Regions from separate parts of the Homo sapiens genome. Here region 2 is linked to region 1. Evidence: fine-mapped expression QTL. A gene starts in region 1. The other region holds a variant in brackets. All regions are shown on one strand. Distances are between the middles of the regions.

The links. PIP is the estimated chance that this variant, and not a neighbour inherited with it, causes the effect.
Region 2: its variant is the best candidate, but not a certain one, in a credible set for the expression of C12orf54 in tibial nerve (GTEx, PIP 0.55).

The regions. Positions count from the first base shown.
Region 1 is chr12:48,481,100-48,484,013 of GRCh38, reverse strand. It overlaps C12orf54 (chromosome 12 open reading frame 54), which reads right to left and starts at 1,516. Exons shown (of 9, transcript NM_152319.4): 1 at 1,438-1,516; 2 at 653-774. The coding sequence starts at 717.
Region 2 is chr12:48,345,545-48,348,458 of GRCh38, reverse strand. ZNF641 (zinc finger protein 641) reads left to right here. Exons shown (of 6, transcript NM_001172681.2): 2 at 344-552; 3 at 1,116-1,207. The coding sequence starts at 369. Among named protein-coding and RNA genes, the nearest start is that of ZNF641, 3.9 kb to the left of the region's middle. The variant T/C (reference allele first, on the strand shown) is at 1,387.

The DNA.
Region 1 (2,914 bases):
CCATATTGGTCAGGCTGATCTCGAACTCCCAACCTCAGGTGATCCGCCCGCCTTGGCCTCCCAAAGTGCTGGGATTACAGGCATGAGGCACTGCACCCAGCCCCAAATTTCTACAAACTCTTATCTCAAAACATCTGCTGCAAGTTCAAAGGCTCAAGCCAAGTTCTGATTCCTTATGAAGCTTTCCTGACCCATAAGTTCACAGTAAACCCTCCTTCTTTTCTGACTTCATGGATACCATCACCTGGGTCTCATATTTAGCCTCAAGCAGCAGATTCTAGCCCTCTTTTCCACTGTAGGCCAAGAGAAGCTTGATTTTAGATGGTTGACCTTGATTTACACTATAGAGGATATAAAGGACTTAGGCAAAGTCAATCCTGGAATAAATTAATGTCCCTAGTTTGTATACCCCGCCAACCCCTAGAGGAATTGCAATTGATGCCTGATTTCTAAATTAAAATGACAAAGATTTGCTATTATCTCTTTCATTAAGGAGATGGAGAAGAGGGAGGACACATGAAAGTCCCCATCTTATTCAGCCAGGAAGCAAGTGAAGCCAAATGAAGAGCCATAGAAGACAGGAGGCCCTGGTTCTTCTCCCATAGAGTATAGCAATCTAAGGATGTTTGAGGGTCATCATTAGCCCCATTACCTTCTCTGCTGCTTGGAGGTCATTTCTACCTTTTGTTCCTGATCCTGGCAGGGATGCTGTGCCATTTGTTCTCAGACAGAAACCAAGGACTCTGGAGCTGAAGATGGAGATAGCTCCAGGCCCTGGAGAGGCATAAATGAATATGCGGAGAAGGCAGGTACATGGTGAGAAGAAAAGCGCTTATTCAGTGGAGAACTACCAGCAGTTAATGGAGCATTTGTATTTTGAATGGGTGAGTGTGCATGTGCATGTGTGTGCTTGCATATATGTGCATGTATGTGTGCATATGCATGTACATATGCATAAGGAAAGATGAAGGTAAGAGGAGGGTAAGAGGAAGGAAGTATTTGCCCTGGGTAAAATCTTCCTATAGTCTTTGTCAGTAACAACAGAAATTGCAGTGAGGAAGTAGACGAAAAAAAAAAAGAGAGAATCTAAGTGAAAAATAAGTTGGCTGAGATTGGGGATGGGGGATTGGCCAAAGGGTCTTTGAGTTCAGGCAAGGACAGGAAATAGTGTAGAGTGAATGCAAGATTGTCAAATACCCCACCCCCTCCCACCTCAGTCAGAATTTTCATGGTTAACTAAGGATAGAGGAGTTTCAGGATGGAGGGCCATCAGCTCCAGCCTTAAAGTGCTTTGTAGAGAAGAAGGGCTCATAGGCAGTGGCCCAGACAGGAGACAAATCCTCCTTTGAGAAGTTTCCCTCCCACTTTTCCCACTCCCACCCTTCTTGGCCTCCAAGCCCCAGTCAAGAACGAGGTCAATTATGCCTAGAAACTTACCCTGCTTGGTTCCCCAAATTACACTTTGCCCCACTCCTTCACCCCTAGACTTTTTCCTATTTGAGCCCCATCTCACAACAGCCTCCTGTTCCCATATCAACCTTGCCATTTTCAATACTTTGTGACTTCAGCTGTGACCTCATAGACGGACAACTTGCTTTCCCTCCCAGCCACACACTAGGCTCCATTCAATCCAAACGATAATGGTAAAATGGAGGGATAATGTTGTGGGATTTTAATTTTAATTTCTGGGAATTTTTGCTTCTTCATTGCCTTCTACCCATTGCATTGGAAATCCATTGATTCTTAGAGATGAAAGGAATGAGGCCAGAAGAATCCAGTTTTTACTTTGAATTTCAAAATCAGGTCTGAGAAATCTGGCTTTCAATTTCAAGAGCTAGGTCCTTCAGAGAGAAATGGTTTTGTTGTGAATTCCCAAAGTCTTTGACCTAGAAAATCACCAAAGATTTGTGAATGATCATGGATTTAAAACCATTTAGATTTAGAAGGGATGAAAACAGTTTTTCTGAAGAAAGTATAGGGTTTTAATACGGAGGCAGGAAGTGAAAATTAGGGAAGAGGCATTAGGTGTAGGTGTGCAACTCTGGGACCTGCTTCCTTTTGGTGATGGTGCATATAAAATATCCCAATATGTCTAGAAATCTAAGAACAGAAGGAACCAAGGGCCAGCTTCTCCCTTGAAACTAGACCCCTGGAGGAGCAGCCTCAGAGAGAGCACTGTGCCTACATGGGGAGGTCGTGGTGAAGTGGGAATTGTGGTATAGCGTGTTTAGGCAGACAGGACCTGAGATAGTACCTTTCAGGTCCCATAGCCTGCCCAGGTGATGGTGGGAAAACTCCTCATGCAGAAATGCAGAGTGGAGAAGGAGAGGGCTAAAATCTAAAGAGGACTCACAAATCATGCAACCTGCGACAAAATGCCAGGGTATGTACAACAGATGGAGGTGTCAACATTGGCTCGGCGCTCCACCTGTCTTTAGCAGACTTTAAAGGAAAGGCATACTGTCCCATCCCTTGTTTTGATTTTAGAGCTCCAGGTGCTACTAGTGAGACCACCATGGACCCTCTCTGCACACCACCTTCTTACTATCATGAAGTGCTTCAAATTAGACTCTGATTAGAGGTTACTCTCTCCCACCCTCTAAGAGACCAGCAGGGCCATTTCCATCATAATCTACCTTTTTATTTACCTCAGTTTCCATAAGGAGTCTAAGCTCCTCCCTTTATCATCTCACATCACAGGGACTTTTACCCTTTCATGGCCAGATGTATCTCATAATCCAACTCAATTCCTACCTCTCTCAAACCACCCCAAGTCTTTTGCTATCCAAAAGTCATTTTTTTTAAAAAAAAAACTCTATTTTTATTTTGGATTCAGAGGATACACATGTAGGTTTGTTACAAGGATATATTGCTGAGGTTTGGGCTTCTATTGATCCTGTCACCCAGACAGTGA
Region 2 (2,914 bases), 140 kb after region 1:
TCATGTGCTTGAAATTAAATGGATAGCCTTTGAATTTCCAGGACAGTTCTTTTTTTTTAAATGAACTTCTTCTAACCTTCAGGTATATTCTGTTTCTATAATGAGGTCCACAAAATACCAGTTAGTGGCTTTGCTACGTAGCACCTGCCAATTTCTTAGTTCCTCCAAGAAGCTTGGTGCAGGCTCCGTTGATCGGAACACATCAAGCTTTTAAAGTTCATCTTCCAGCAAGCTCCTCCTATCTAGTTTTGTCTATTATCCCTGGGCCTGTTCTTCATAACTCCCTTAGAAATATCACTCCTTTCCCATTTTCATGGGCATTGCTGATATGAATTTGTTCCAGGTCACAATTTGGGTCTGCAGCAGAAATGCTTTCAGAACAGACAGCAGCGCTGGGGACAGGATGGGAATCAATGAATGTACAGCTGGATGGAGCAGAGCCCCAGGTGGAAAGGGGAAGCCAGGAAGAGCGGCCATGGAGAACAGTACCAGGACCTCTGGAGCACCTGTGCTGTGACCTTGAAGAGGAGCCACAGTCCCTTCAGGAGAAGGGTGAGAACTCACAGAGTGTGTGGGAAGCACAGTGCATAGTCTCCTAATATTTATTCCAAAAGTAGGGTTAAAAATCTCCAAATTGCCATGGACTAAATAGCATAACCTGTACCAGGACCAGCCCATTCTTTCTCAGCCCTGGTCACAGGTACAGAATAGGCTCCTGAATTCAGCAAACCATGCAACTGGGCTTCTCTTGTTTCTTCATAATTACTCCCTCCACATGCAAATGCATAATTAGTGATACTGAATGAGGGAGATGAAGGAAGTGACAGCAACCTGATTACTGTTGGATAACCCACTCAGTAAGATGTAATTTACTAGATGAAAATTACATTCAAGTACTGTAAATTCAAACTATAGCTAGTCTAACTAAAAGCCATCTGATACCCTTTCAGAACATTTTGAGTGATGGCCTTCTCATCTACATTTATGCATTTGAGTTTTACCAATGGGCATAGATACAGAAGTTGTGACCCTTAAGCCTCTCTAAAATGGGGCCCAGGCCCCATTGAGAAAGGGTAGATCGTTATTCTCTAATGTTTCTTCTCTCTCCTTATCAGCTCAGTCTGCTCCCTGGGTTCCTGCAATTCCCCAGGAGGGGAACACTGGAGACTGGGAGATGGCAGCTGCACTTCTTGCGGCTGGATCACAGGTGAGCTCTGCTTCCCTTGGCGTCTCCTGTGGTCCCATCACTGCTGCCTTTGTATTGCTTTCGCATCAGCCCATTGATGAGTTGGCTCACATGATCATCAATGGTATGTTCATCTTATAACTGAATAGATTCTATCCCTTTCCAAGGGGTCATAAGACCCTTGGAAAATTAAATGGACC[T/C]ACAAGAAAGGGAATTCCTTGAGGTTAGGGTTTTTTTGAGTTTTGTTTTGTTTTTTGTTTTTGAGACAGAATCTCACTGTGTTGCCCTGGTTGGAGTGCAGTGGTATGATCTTGGCTCCCTGCAACCTCCACCTTCTGGGTTCAAGCGATTCTTGTGCTTCAGCCTCCCAAGTAGCTGGGACTACTGGCACACGCCACCACACCTAGCTAATTTTTGTGTTTTTAGTAGAGACAAGGTTTTGCCACGTTGGCCAGGCTGGTCTTGAACTGCTGACGTCAGGTGATCTGCCCACCTCAGCCTCCCAAAGTGCTGGGGTCACAGGTATGAGCCACCGTGCCTGGCCAAGGTTAGGGTTTTTAATGGATGGCTGTGTTTGTTATCCACAGGAGGATTTTAAGAATAATTAATTACCTTCCTTTAAGAAATAAATCTGGAAAGATTAGGAAAAGAGGACCTGAAGAAAGCTTAGAAGAACCTAAAGTGGAAGGATTGGGTAGATGAGGGAGCATTTATGGAAAAGAAGAGGAAGAAGGTTATAAAGAGGGGCAGAGCTAGAAAGGAAATTAGGTTTAGATTCAGAAGGCAATAGGAGAGCTGTGGAAAGCTAATACTAATAGTGTTAGTACTAATAGAGTACACCCCCAGAGTGTTTATCATGTATGCCATTTTCTGGGTGCTTTATGTATATTAACTCATTTAATTCTGAGAACAACTCAGTTATCCAATTTTACAGATGAGGAAATGGGGCAGGGAGAGATTAAGGCACTTGTGTAGGTCATGCTGCAAGAAAGTGGCAAAGCTGAGTCACTTGGCTCCAGATTCTGAGCTCCTAACCACCATACTGTGCTGCCTAAAAATATAAAGATATGGCCAGGCACGGTGGCTCATGCCTGTAATCCCAGCACTTTGGGAGGCCGAGGTGGGCAAATCACAAGGTCAGGAGTTCGAGACCAGCCTGGCCAACATGGTGAAACCCCGTCTCTACTAACACCACAAAAAAAATAGCTGGGTGTAGTGGTGGGTGCCTGTAATTCCAGCTACTTGGGAGGCTGAGACAGGAGAATCGCTTGAACCTGGGAGGTGGAGGTTGCGGTGAGCCAAGATTGTGCTACTGCACTCCAGCCTGGGCGACAGTGAGACTCCGTCTCAAAAAAAAAAAAATGCTGTGGCAAGGGAGGCAAGAAAGAATGTTTTATCTGTAGCATTTTGTGCTGATAGAAAAGGCAGGGTCCAGTGGAAGAAGGAGGAAATGGTACATAATTTCTTCATAAAAAGAGTAAGGCCAGGGAGAAGTGACTGAGTAGACACCTGTAGCTAAACAGAGGTGGTGATGAGTTTATGGTGCCTCCAGCTTCTCATGGCCCCACTTGGGAAATTCCTCCAGTAACATTACACTCACTCACTCCTTGACCATCTACCTTTACTCCTCTCCTCATTTCCCTGTTACCAAAACTATGTGCCCTACCCAGGGACTTCTGGGCAGCTCTTTTCTCAGATCATTTCTCACCCTCTCTCCTCTACTAACTT